Linked DNA regions of Homo sapiens. The protein of the gene in region 3 interacts with the protein of the main gene of each other region in a pairwise test. Each region holds a gene or a part of one and is shown on either strand. Other genes may lie near its edges.

What was found.
Region 1: the proteins of THOC1 (region 3) and MTNR1B interact in a two-hybrid assay, tested with the Homo sapiens proteins (one large-scale study listed by BioGRID and IntAct).
Region 2: the proteins of THOC1 (region 3) and PRC1 interact in a two-hybrid assay, tested with the Homo sapiens proteins (one large-scale study listed by BioGRID).
Region 4: the proteins of THOC1 (region 3) and GPRASP3 interact in binary tests that used the Homo sapiens proteins (3 or more experiments, as listed by UniProt).

The regions. Positions count from the first base shown.
Region 1 is NC_000011.10:92,979,651-92,983,282, reverse strand, and holds the end of MTNR1B (melatonin receptor type 1B), read right to left. Parts: intron 1,837-3,632; coding exon 971-1,836; 3' UTR 501-970; downstream 1-500.
Region 2 is NC_000015.10:90,968,038-90,970,535, forward strand, and holds part of PRC1 (protein regulator of cytokinesis 1), read right to left. Parts: intron 2,478-2,498; coding exon 2,367-2,477; intron 1,587-2,366; coding exon 1,410-1,586; intron 1,084-1,409; coding exon 1,042-1,083; intron 1-1,041. UniProt on the Homo sapiens protein: Key regulator of cytokinesis that cross-links antiparrallel microtubules at an average distance of 35 nM. Essential for controlling the spatiotemporal formation of the midzone and successful cytokinesis.
Region 3 is NC_000018.10:223,048-226,547, reverse strand, and holds part of THOC1 (THO complex subunit 1), read left to right. Parts: intron 1-1,144; coding exon 1,145-1,211; intron 1,212-1,408; coding exon 1,409-1,459; intron 1,460-1,553; coding exon 1,554-1,624; intron 1,625-2,347; coding exon of another isoform or gene 2,348-2,368; coding exon 2,369-2,464; intron 2,465-3,042; coding exon 3,043-3,108; intron 3,109-3,500. UniProt on the Homo sapiens protein: Component of the THO subcomplex of the TREX complex which is thought to couple mRNA transcription, processing and nuclear export, and which specifically associates with spliced mRNA and not with unspliced pre-mRNA.
Region 4 is NC_000023.11:102,744,743-102,748,242, reverse strand, and holds part of GPRASP3 (G protein-coupled receptor associated sorting protein 3), read right to left. Parts: intron 2,265-3,500; exon of another isoform or gene 2,069-2,264; intron 427-2,068; 5' UTR 332-426; intron 1-331. UniProt on the Homo sapiens protein: Survival and differentiation promoting protein that plays a role in the regulation of neurosynaptogenesis. Induces phosphatase PP2A activity which results in APP dephosphorylation and inhibits BACE1-mediated processing of APP.

The DNA of each region.
Region 1 (3,632 bases), on a different chromosome or scaffold from region 3:
CGCATCCGGTGATAGCCCTTCCTTTCTTTGTATATGACTTTTCTCCTTCATTTTATGTAGTTATAATAATAACAAAAGCTAATGATTACTGCCTGCTAGCCACATGTCAGGCACTGTCCTCAGCTCTGCAGATGTGTTATCCCAGAGAATCCTCACAACAACCTGGGAGGCTGACTACGGCATGATCTTCACTTTAAGATGAGTAAACTGAGGAACAGGGAGGTTAGGAGACTTTCCCCAAGTCACACAACCTGAACATGATGGAACCAGAAAAGGAGGCCAAGCGGACTTTGTGCTCCAGATGCTGGAGCAGTGTGACTGTGTGTGTGTGTGTGGGGGGGGGGGGTGCAGTGTGTTTGTGATGTGGTGGCTATGTGTGTGTAACATATGTATGTGTACACAGTGTATGTGTGCATAGTGTGGTGTGTCTGTGGTGTGATGCATGTGTGGTTGTGATTGTGTGTGTGTAGGGAAGGTCAATGGCGGAGTGTGGAATGCTTGCCCTCTGCACCTGCCCCACCTGAGGCCCTTGCAGTTACCAAGTTCCAGTCCTACTGACCTCTCTCTTTCATCCTTGCTAACAGGAAGAGATCCTGCCACGCTGGGGGGAAGGGGAGAAAGCAGCCAGGAGGCCAAGGCAGGAGGATGAGGGTCAGCTATGAGAAGGAGTTGGGCTCTTCTGCCCCAGGCCTTTCCTCATTCTGTCCTTTCCTTGGTCTTGTGTGCACCAAATCCCCAAGACACCACCAAGAGTGTTTTCCAGGTCCTGTGGCCTGTGAGCATCTCCTGGATCAGCCTGAACCCATGGCGTTGATGGGCTGCTTGTCCCAGCATGAAGTTCCCCCAGCCTTGGGGCTGTGATGCCAACAGGACAGTGTGGCCCAGCAGGCTGCCTGGTCTCACCCTTGCAGCAGACTCTCTCCCACCATTTCATGAGTTTGTCATGCTGCTGGTGTGCCTCAGATCCAGGCTAGAGAGCATCTGCCTGGTGCTGCACACCAATGATGGGTGGAGCTGGGCTCTGCAGCCCCTCCGCGTGGCTGCCCTTGGAAGCATCTTGAATGCAGTGCCGTGGGTTCCAAAGGGCCAAGAGGATCCTCTTGTATTCCCTGCGGAAGTTTTGGTTCAAGAGCCCATAGACAATGGCATTCAGGCAGCTGTTGAAATAAGCCAGTAAGTAGCTAGTGACAAATAGCCCCTCAGGGATCTGGGGAGCCATTTCTTGGGGGTTGATGGCCACAGCGAGGCCGATGCAGTTAAGTGGAGCCCAGCAGATGGCAAAGATCACAAACACCACAAACATGGTTAGAAAGCTCCGCAAGTCGCTGGGCTTCAGGCACAGCCTGCTCTCTGGCTTGGCTTTCCTGCGGGCCTGAAGCACCAGCACCCAGATGCGCAGGTAGCAGAAGGACACGACAGCGATAGGGAGGAGGAAGTGGATGACCACCACTGCCGCCGTGTACTGGGTGCTGGCGGTCTGGATGAAGGTGCAGGAATAGATGCGTGGGTCGTACTCCAGGGACCCCACAAAGAAGTTGGGCAGCAAGGCCACCACGGTGAGGAGCCAGATGAGGCAGATGTGCAGAGGGGTGTGCCAGCGCCGGTAGATTCGGTGGTAGGCCATGCTGTGGCAGATGTAGCAGTAGCGGTTAATGGCGATGGCAGTGATATTGAAGACAGAGCCGATGACGCTCAGGCCCATCACAAAGGCGCTGGCCTTGCAGTGCTCCTCCCCCAGGGCCCAGCCGTCATAGAAGATGGCCACGAGGATTAGCGGGTAGGGGTAGAAGGCCACCACCAGGTCAGCCAATGCCAGACTCACCAAGAACAAATTACCTGAAGCAGCAAACAGAGCAACAGTCAGCACGAGACCCCACGACTTAGATTCTGTAGAACATCCTACCCTCCACGAAGTTACTTTTGGCAATGTGAGTGGAAACCAAGTGGCTCTTAGAGGCACAGAACTGAAGACTCAGATTGCATTTCTGCCACTCACTAGCTATATGACTGAGGCAAGCTGTTTAGGCTCTCAGAGCCCCATTTTCCTCATTTGTGAACTAGGGGCAGTGATACCTACCTCATAGTATAGCTGTAAGAATTAATGATACAAAGTGCTCAGGGATTTAACAGGTGCTGACACATGCTAACTGTTTCCATGATAGGCACAGATGCTCACGGGCTTTGCACCATTTAAGCTCCAGCAAAGATTTCGGAGGAGGAGAGTCTGAAAGTCAGGAGTGTGGATTTCTCATCACTATCATCGCTCCCTCACATTCCCTCACCTCCTCGCACATCTCTCTGGTTGTCTCCTTTTGCATTTTCTCCCCACTGGTTAACAGGCTACTTTCTAAGTGTCTTTACATGGGTTTTGTAAATGTGAATTGCATTTTGCAGCTGGACTAGAAGAAAGGTGTTGAGAGTGGGAACCATGTGTTTCTGGTATTCCCATTTGTGCCCTGTCTGGGTCCAGTACTCCCAGCCTTGTGGCCATGTTGACAGACACTTGCAGTAGCGGCACAGAGCCCCAGCCCTGTGGGGTGAGAAAGGGCTGTCAGCACTCCTAAGCTCACAGCCTCTGGGGGGCCTCCCTGCTTTGCCTGCACCATGGTGGCCTTCCTGGACTATCTAGGCATTTATCCTTTGAATGGAGCCTTATCCAACATCACCAAGCTTGGTCAACCAGAGAGAGCCTCAGGAAATGATACACCCATCAATTAATATGCTTCAGGCATGTTCTAAGCTGGAGTCCCAGGGCAGAGGCAGGGCTTACTCTAAAAGAACACAATCTCTGCTCCTCAAGTGTTTGCGTTCTAAAACCAACACTGACTCACGAATAGAGCACCAAGAACCTAAACGTTTGGGCAATACAAAGCTCATAGTGTGAGCAGTTCCATCACTAATGCCAATCTTCTCATTCACCAAGTGTTGTACTTTTTGAATACCTACTGTATGCTCAAAAGATAACAGACTCTCCCTCCAGCAGGGTCCCTGAGTGATGCAATGTGCACTGGGCATGGTATTTTAAATTTTCTGGTCTCTTGCCACATGGTGAAGCCTCCAGCCTTAGGGTGGCGGAATGCAGAGGGCGGCTGGGATGGTGTGCAGGAGGAACTCCCAAGTCAGCAAAGACACAGACATGGAAACTCCACAGCCACCATGTGTCTGTCCCATTGCCACAGAGGCTGTGGTGGCTTTGGGGGTCTAGAGGGTCAGGCAGGTGGAAAGAGCCCCCAAAGCACAGCAATTGGAGAGGCCAGGCTCTGTGTGGATTCCACGGGGTACAGAAAAAGGGAGGCTGAGAGCCGCCCAGCTGGGATTTCACCTGAGTCAGCCCTTCAAGTGAAGTAGATGGCACACCTGGACTTATTCACCCACAAGGGTAGGAAAAGGACTGCCTCCAGCCTTCCCACATTCACCCCATCTCAAAGAAGATTCCCCATAGCATGGTCCGAATGGGGATGGGAACTTGAAAGACCCTCAGGAAGCCTTCATGAAGGGCCTATTTTGACCTCAGAGGAATGGGGTCAACCCCACTGAGAACCCACACAAGTCTACTGGAGTCCTGGGAGTTCTCAAGACCTAACTATAATACTACTGTGTCCACAGCTAGGTTAGGAAACCAGGGAGACAGG
Region 2 (2,498 bases), on a different chromosome or scaffold from region 3:
AGACAGATATTAGCAGAGGTTAGTTTACCGGCTTTGGTGCTGCCTGGTGGAGTCTATCAGCCATAGCAACCCAAACCAGACGAACCTACCTAGGACTAGCCACACAGATAGGCAGGTACATTTAAGCCTCAGATAAAATGGGCCTTGGTTGAACAAGCGAAAAAGAGAAAGCTGGACCTCTGTCCAGCAATCAGCCAGAGTGACACACACCCACTTTTAAAGGTAGAAGCACCACCAGCCACGTAATTTGAAAAACATGCTGGAGTAGGAAGCCAGTTTCAGTGATCAAAACTAGCTGCAGCCTTGGCCAACTGTTCCATTCTCTATCCCTGCAGCAATTAAGAGGGGAGGCAGGCTAGGGGTTTAACTCAATATCCCCTCAAGGGTGAGGAACATCCTCTCCTCTTGCTAGTAAAATATTGAGAGAAGAAATCACAGATTAAGTAAAAGGCAGTGTAGTTAGGTGTTAGCAAATATAGAGTAGGATACTAGGAAGTGAAGAGCATTCTGGAAAAACTTGCTTCCAGTGCTTCATCTATGCTTCAGTAGCTCAATGTATGGAAAGAGGCAAAGGTGAGGAAATCAGCATTAGCTAGCTGAGAATAGAGCTGGCGGTTAAGCCCTGAGGGGTTAGGAAGGCATATACTCCAGGAAATAATCAGCACACAGGCCAAGAGCCTCATTGTAGGCAGCACACAGCTGGGGCTCCCTTCCCCATGTGATTGGGGGCCTCTATTCTTTCCAGCTATTGCAGGCCTTTGATGTCACAATTGGGGAGGGTCAAGGTTTTCTGTTAAACGTGATTTAAAACTGTGCCTGACTTTAGGGGCTGAGAATCCAATTCAAGTCTGAACAAATTTTATTAATTAATCTGTTGTGAATGTAAATCAGATGTGTTTTTTTGAGTCCATGATAGGAATTCCTGCTTCCTTTGTAACACTGCTGAGATTATTAGTTAGTGTAGCCCTGTGCCCAGATGAATGAAGCCAGCAGATGACAGATCAGTTTGGAAAAGGGACATGCAGGGATTGCCATACAGACCTGAAGCCCAACAGTGGAACTGTCAGAGAGGGACGGATCCTTCTAAGAACAAAGAATTAAGACAATTACCAAGAACTCCACCAAGAGAGCACCAGGACAGTGATAGAGGGGTTGCCTCCTGCAGCCAGGGAATGGTATGTATTAAGCAGAAGGATCCAGGTTAAATGTCTAGTTGCTGCTGCCAACTTCCTTCCTACACAACCCCCCCTTAAATCACACCCACCCTGCCATGGTCAAAGCAGGAAAGGGATTCTCAGCCTCCAAGGTAGCTGCCCTAGCTAATAGCCTGGGTGCCCCTGGGAAGATACCCACTCTGCCCCAACTGTGTGCTCCCCAGAGACTGGTAGATATTAGAAAAGGTGAATTACCGCAAACTCAGAATAGGTGCTGGCAACAGAATTAATGCTGAAGTTGCGCTGGAGGGGGGCCGAGCCAGGGTACCCACCACTCAGGATGCTGCCGTTGAGCTCCAGGTTCTCCTTGTTGGCTCCATGCCTGCCAGTACGGGGTGTTTTCTTCCCTGAACAGGTGGAAGCAGCGACTGGCTGCAGAGAAAGGAAAGAGATCCATGTATCATCCTTCTAATGAACGTGCACACGCACACACAATACCTGCACTGGTCAAAGGCTGAGACTATCTTTATATTCATGTCTATAATCCTATACTTTTTAGTTAAAAAAAAAACATATATATATATATATATATATATATATATATATATATGGGGCTGGGTGTGGCTCATGCCTATAATCCCAACACTTTGGGAGGCCAAGGCAGGAGGATTGCTTGAGGCGACATGTTCGAGACCAGCCTGGGCAACATAGCAAAACACTGTCTCTAGAAAAAAATTTTTTTTAAATATGAATTCTTGATTTACAGAACACCTATCTTGAGCATAGTCTAATAAAATATTTGAAAGACTGAATGTGTTTTGCCACATACTTTCCACATCTCTACTGAGTACCTGGCATGTCTAGTGATCTGGTTTCACTGGGCTAGAACCCACATGTAGGGGACCTATCTCCATACCAGCTGAGGACTGGGCTTGGAATTGAGTCTACAGCGACCCTGCCTGATCTTCAGTTTCCCAGACACATCCCAGTGCTTCCCATGGTACCAGTGGGGCTCAGAGTGACTGTTCTCTTTTTTTGCACGTTAGTTTTGGACCATTATTTAATGGTGAGCTAGCTTATATCTGTCAACTCTCAGCATCTCAATAAGAACCAAATCCAGGGATCTTAGAATCTAGAACAAGTAGGTGGGGCCTCTGGGTGAACAGGCTAGGGACGCATGTGAGGATGTGCTTAGACACAGGGCATACTAACCTTGCTGCCAGAAGGAGGAAGTCGAGACACGGGGGAGTGGTAGACTGTCCCTCCAAAGATAGGCCGAATGCTACTATTGGCCGTAGCATTGGACATGGTGGTAGTGTTCAGCTAGGGAGAAGAGCACGTGGG
Region 3 (3,500 bases):
GGAGGTCTCTGCTCCAAAATTCCGTCATTCCCTTCTCACCTCCCTCAGACCTCCTCCAAAGCTGATTTGCAGACTAAGCCAGTAATACATATCTCACAAGGTGTGGAGCTCTGCAGGACATTCAAGCTAAAAGATGCAAAGAAAATTTTTAAGCAAAAAGGAGTTCATTTATTTGGGGTTTCACAAAACCTCATTAGGCTCTCTACTGTCTATCTAAATACTTCCATCCATTTCCTCCTATCCTGTCCATAACTGAAGGTGGAGCCCACTGTTACTTAACGGTATTTGTGTTAAGGACACTGAGCAATGCCGTATTAGTTGTATAATGACTTCACTACCTGCTGGGTTTGAATCCCAGGCTCGTCATTTGCTGGCTGCAGTGCAGCTCTTTCAGACTTGTAATTTTAAGGTAGTAGCACATGGTAAACACTCAAAAAATGTTATTTCTTATCCTTCTATCTATTTTGGAGGTTTGGTATAGCATAGTAGGAAGATGAGGGACTTTGAAGTGAGACGTGGGTTTGAATTAAATCTTTATGGCCTTGGGCAAATCAGTGAGACACGGTAGTCTCTGTTTAATATGTACATGTACTTGTTCCGAGAATTCAATGAATAATGTATGTAAAGTGTTCAGATCCTAGCCATCAATATTTATTGGATGTCTTTAAATCACCTAGTGCATTATGAGAGCTCAGTTAGTGGCAGCTATTAACAATTTGGGTTTGCCTGTTGCCTTTTCTAGGGTTTGGGTGTTTTATTCGTTGTATTTTGAATGAATCTTAATGTAGCATGCCATACTGAATGTGCATCATGTATACACATATCTTAATATCAAATCAGAAGTTTTCGTTTCACACTCAGCTTATTTTAGGAAACATATATTGCTCTGTTCATAGTGAATCTGATTGATTAATTGAATGTTTTATTCCCTGCATATGCTTTTATGTCTTCAGTACCAACCCTCTTGAGGAAGAAGTGCAAGAATTTTCTCTTATAATCCTCTCATTTGTGATTATTCTTGTCTTGGTAATTTTTGACACTATCCACAGTATAGTTACATGTTACATGCCTTGTGTTTTTTAAACCTTAAAGTTGCATATGCATTGCTGTAACTCAAGCATGCTTTCATTGCTTTGTTCCCTAGTTCAAACTATGTTTTAACTGATGAGCAATCACTTTGGATTGAAGATACTACAAAATCAGTTTATCAAGTAAGTTCAACACGCAACAAACCCATGATTGAAAAAATGGAAATTTAGGATTTTCTTTGTTTCAGCCCCAAATAGGAAAATAAGGATAAAGTTAAGCTCAGGTACAAGACCACAAACACTCCTTGGTTCTCTGCCTACAAACCACTCCTATGATGCAGAAAGTTGTTGAAAGCTTAGTATATTCTTTCTAATCACAGCTACTATCTGAAAACCCCCCCGATGGAGAAAGATTTTCAAAGATGGTAGAGGTATGTGTTTTTTATGCTTACATCCTCTTCTTAGCACGAAATAGAACTTCAGAGGATTCCACTAACCAAAATGTAATCGCTTTGTTTTTCCCAGCATATATTAAACACTGAAGAAAACTGGAACTCGTGGAAAAATGAAGGTTGCCCAAGTTTTGTGAAAGAAAGGTAAATACATACTGAAAGAAAGGTAAATACATACTCATCACAAGAACGACGAGAAAGGCTTTTGAAAATGTGCTCCGATATGATTATAGCATGTAAAAATACATGTATATATTTCACATAAAAAATGTAAGTTGAACTTTGTAAGAGTACAACCACTTTGATTTACCTCTGTATTTTTTAAACCTCATAAATTTCTTGTCATTAAATTCCTGGAACAAACATCTTATTATTGAGAAGAATACTGTATATCTACTCCGTGTAATTTGCCATATAATGTGGCATTTTTATCTTATATCTGATAATTGTTCTATCATAATATGAAGTTTTCATTTTTTTTTTTTTTTTGAGAGGGAGTCTCACTCTGTCACCCAGGCTGGAGTGCAGTGGCATGATCTTGGCTCACCGCAGCCTCCGCCTCTTGGGTTCAAGCGATTCTCATGCCTCAGCCTCCTGAGTTGCTGGGATTACAGGCGCCTACCACCATGCCTGGCTAATTTTTGTATTTTTAGTAGAGACAGGCTTTCACCATGTTGGCCAGGCTGGTCTCAAACTCCTGACCTCAGGTGATCCACCTACCTCAGCCTCCCAAAGTGCTGGGATTACAGGCATGAGCCACCATGCCCAGCCAGTTTTCATCTTTTTTAAGAGGAAAACAATAACTAAATTTTCTTTTACGTTAAACATTCTTCTATTTCTGTTATCCATTTGTAATTCAAAAAATAGTGTATGTTTTGTTCACGACAGAACATCAGATACCAAACCTACGAGAATAATTCGGAAGAGAACAGCACCCGAGGACTTCCTAGGGAAAGGACCCACCAAAAAAATTCTGATGGGAAAGTAGGTGAATTTGTCTTCATGTGGGATGTTCTTAGTTATTTTTATATTTTGAAGATGTTACTTTAAGAACTCTCCATCCAAAATATAGTATGAGATTGTGTTTGGTACACACATAGATAGCCAAAGCAAACCGCACTGTCTATACTGCCCATTGTGTGGGTTCATGCACCAGATAAACCTTCATTTTGTCTCCAGCTTCCAAAATCTGTGTCTCTAGGCTGTGCCATTTTTTCCGTTTCAGACAGTAGAATTGTTTAGATTCCAGTTGTTGCAAGGTACCATAATCCTTGAGTTCTCTTACCTTCCAGTTAACTATTCATTGCTTTATATTGTGCTGGAATATTTTTAGAAAAAACTAAAGATTATATCATTATCATTAGTCATGATTAATGATTATATGCTCATATAGAGAATAATTTTAGGTATTTTAAATACCAAAAATTATTGAGAAAAGTAAAACTCATACTGTCAACATCCCCAAATCCACTGTTTACATTGTATTGTTTTTCTGTTCAGTTTCAAGGCACATGAGGATGGTGTCCATAAAAAATGTATTTATTTCTGTGTCTATTTTGTAGTGAGGAGTTAACAAGGCTTTGGAATCTTTGCCCTGATAATATGGAAGCCTGTAAATCAGAGACAAGGCAAGTTGAACATTTTTCAAATGAAGTGTTGCTTTTGTCAAGTGTTGAGTAGAATGGAGCCTTTTCTCAGCTATGATCAGAGCTCAAATGAAATTTAAAAGTTTATTGTGGTTGACTTTTGGCACAGCAGCGTGTAACTTCCCACCATAAAACTCCTCAAAGTGCTGATAAAATAATTTTAGAAATCACAAAAAAATAAAGATTCACAAAAGGAATCAAAACTACAAACAGAAGAGTAAGCCTATGAACTGATACGGTTCTAGGGCAGCAGTACTAATGATTGCCAGCTTTGAGAACCAGGGAACTTGGGTTTTAATAGTCACAAAAGTTCGTTGAACTTGCAAAATGGGCAAGTTTAATAGCAGTCTAGACATAGGTAAAGTAAGAATTAA
Region 4 (3,500 bases), on a different chromosome or scaffold from region 3:
GATTGGAGTTCTGAGTATTTGGTTGACAGACCTACACTCTAATCTCTAAACCCAATTTCTGCCTTTCCAAATCTAGGGCTTTGGTTATATAACACTTCTGGCCTCCTAGTACTCCTTGTGGCTTATCTTCCCATTTCCTGCCCCAATATCTACCAATTACCTCATAGGCATAATCCTGGCTCACCCCACCCCATCACTTGTACACAAATGTGAGGTCAGAGGTGACTAGAAAGATGGAAGACAGTGGCACCAAGATATGATCTGGTCTAACCCACTTGGCAACAGCCTTTCCATAACCCCAATCAACGGGGGTGCTCACACATAAACCTACCTTGAATCCAAATGAATAGTTTTTGTTCTTTCTTAATTAACTTCCAAGTGAACAGCTACATACAGATCTCTACAGGAACCTAGAAAGAAACAGACCTAAGGATAGAAAGGAAGGCAGAGGAAAGAAAACAGAAGAGACTAAGATGATCTAATGCCTATAACAAGGATTATAACATATGCTTTTGAATATTCAAGGCTATGTTAAATGTCTCCCACCTGTCTGCTCTTCCTCAATGATTCCCTAATCACCCCAAGACCTGCAGCCTGATTACACCTCCTGCCAACTTTGAAGTCAGTCATTTTCCCAATAGAAGTTACAGCTCCTTTCCTGAACCAAAAAAAATGAGGTGCAGAAATAGGTAGTGGAACATAGGCAATTGTACTTACAAGGCAGGCAGGGAACATAATGGAGACTGTTATTTTAATACCATCTGTGCATGTCCTTCCCCTTCCCCATGCATACCTAGATCCTACTTTATTCACCACCTATGTCAGCCTGCTTATACAGCAGGAGTTCTCAGGAGATGCTATCCTTCCCACCAAAGAAGAGTCACGCCCTACAAAAAGAAGGCGGAGCAACTAGCAAAAAATAACCCCAAGAGACTATGTTAACAATGGTAGAAAAATAGCAGGTTAATGGACAGATTCCCAGAATTCGGATTCTAACACCTCCTTTTTGAGAATCAGAAACTAAGTAAATAAAGTCTCCCAACTCTCATAGCTCCTCAGATATCCACCATCAGAAATGCCATGAATTCTTCTGTGGGACTATTTCTGCACCAAAATGAGAGGGTCTGTGAGGAGTGGCTGGAGATGGAGTTTTGGTTTCCAGAACCATAAACTGAAGAAGCAGATTGACTTCAAATGTTCTAAATTGACCCTTCAAAAAGATTACCCCTCTACTCGGAACCCACATTCTCACACATCATTACATTACTTAAAGTGGATCAGCATGTTGAGAAAACAGATCCTGAACAAGAAAGGTGGAAAAATACTACCCTGTTATTTACATGGACCACTGTTGTGAAATTCGACTAAGTCCACACCCTATTTGCTTGCACAAAACTGGATGTGGGGATCTAAATATGTAAGGCAATAAAACAGTGCGGTATTATAAAAGGCGGTTAAACATTTCATTTTAGTGTCTTCATAATTCACCCACTCAAAGTTCCACTTTTGGAGAACCCAACAGACCTATCACGCAGACAGGAGACTTTAACAACCACCTGGAGCCTGTGGGAAGGGACAGCACCCAAGACACGGGGTCCCACAGGCCCCTTTCCGGAATCAGGGCCCCGAGTAGCGAACGCGGCCCACCTCTCGTGGGCTGGGCACAGAGCTGGGACGCCGGCTCCCCCCGGCCTTCCCGGGAGCCCCCCACAATGGCTCCCGCTCCGCCATTTCTCCCGCAGGAGCTCCCCCACAGCCCTTTCCGGGCACAGACACCGTCGAGGGCGGGGCGCCGGCGCCTGCAAAGCTGGCTTGGAGGCGGTCAGCGCGGTTCTCCTCCAGACGATCTGACGGTGCCTCTCAAGCCAGCCCCTCAGCCCTTGGCCTGGCTCGGCCTGCACCGGTCACCGCCTCCCCATCGCCAGGGGTCTCGAGCACTGCGCACCTCTCTCCGGCGACCGGCTCCGACCGGATCGTCTCCTCCTTGCCAGGATGTCAGGGTCGGCGGGGCAGGCTGCCAGCCGGTCCACCCTGGCGGACCACCCCAAGCTCACGCACCCCCACTTGCCTTCAGAGGCCCAGGGCCCAGGTCGTCGACCTCCCCCTCCTCTCCTCAGCTCTCCTCTGGCGGCTCCTCACTTCGATTCTCACCGCTTTCCCCGCTATCAGAATGGCAAAGACGCGTCCCGCCCCCCACGCCTCTGCACCAAACTGGGCAGGGGCTGCGCAGGATGCTGCAAGAACCGCTCTCTCCGCGAGGGTGTCGGGAAGGGGGGCGGAGGGATACGGCGCGAAAGTGCTCGACGCCCCCCTCTCAGGCCCACCTTAGTTCCGACCCAGAGGTGGGCGGGGCCATGACGAGCCCCAGCCTGGGCCTGCGGGTTGGCACCAGGCTGCCTCAGGAGGACCCCCGCGGACCCTAACGTGGCGACCACCACCACCACATTTCTGGCGTTGCTATAATATAGGGACGGGCGGGCGGCTGGGGACCCAGGCAGGGGACAGGATCAGGAGGTTGGGAAGAGCCGCGCTGGAGGGAGCAGCGGATGGATACCAAACCGCCCCTTGGTGTGTCTGCACCCCCGCCCCAACTCCCCAACCAGGGACTGCTGGGTGTCTGCCCCTTCCCTCTCCCCAGCCCTCTCACTCTCCTTCCTGGAAGCTAATGGGAGAGGGGGTGTCAGCAGTGCAGTCTGGGAGGGGTGAGGCGATTTCAGGCCAAACAAGCCTGGGCCTCTAGGGTGGTCCTCTTGTGCGTTTCTTTCCCAGCTTCATGGAGCCACGCAGGGGAGGAAGGTACACCTGCTCTTAAGTGAATTCTGGGGCAGGGGGCTCCCATCAAGGCCTCACCACTGCCCCTCTTCTAACAGAAGGTAGACCTAGACCTCTAACCCTAGGAAACCAACCACTGGTCTGTACCAGACTCATTTCTTTCTGCCACGCCGCTTTTTCTCATTTCAAATGGTGGCTCAGGTTGGCATTGCGCCGTCCCCACAGTTGACCCCAAAAGAGGGCCTTTCCCTGTCAGGACTCGCAGGAGGTCGTAACAGTCCTCTCTCTTTGATGGCACCAGGTAGGGATGGTCTTGGCGCCTCTCCACTGTTCTGGGAGGAGAGGGGACCACTATTCGCGCACTTCCTCGAGGCAGATCCCAGATTCCAGCTGCGCTCCTCAACTCCTCCTTTTCTCCCAGCCTTGCACCCTGCCTAATGCATGCATGTGCTTTTTTCTTCTGAATATATATATATTTTTTTACTCTCCCTTCCAAGCGATGGGGAGTTTGACTTGTTAGACTGGAAGTTTCCTGAATGAAAGTACCCTTTTGGTATTGTTCCCCACTGTATTCTCAGCACATTGTAGACGGTATAGTCAGTCAAGGGTTGAAGGAGGTGAGGGGCTACTGAATCATGACAATTCCATGGTACCCTCTGTGGTTTGCAGATCAATGCTAATTCATAGGTGTGTCTTTGCTGCCTGTAACCCCAGGGCTTAGCCCAGAG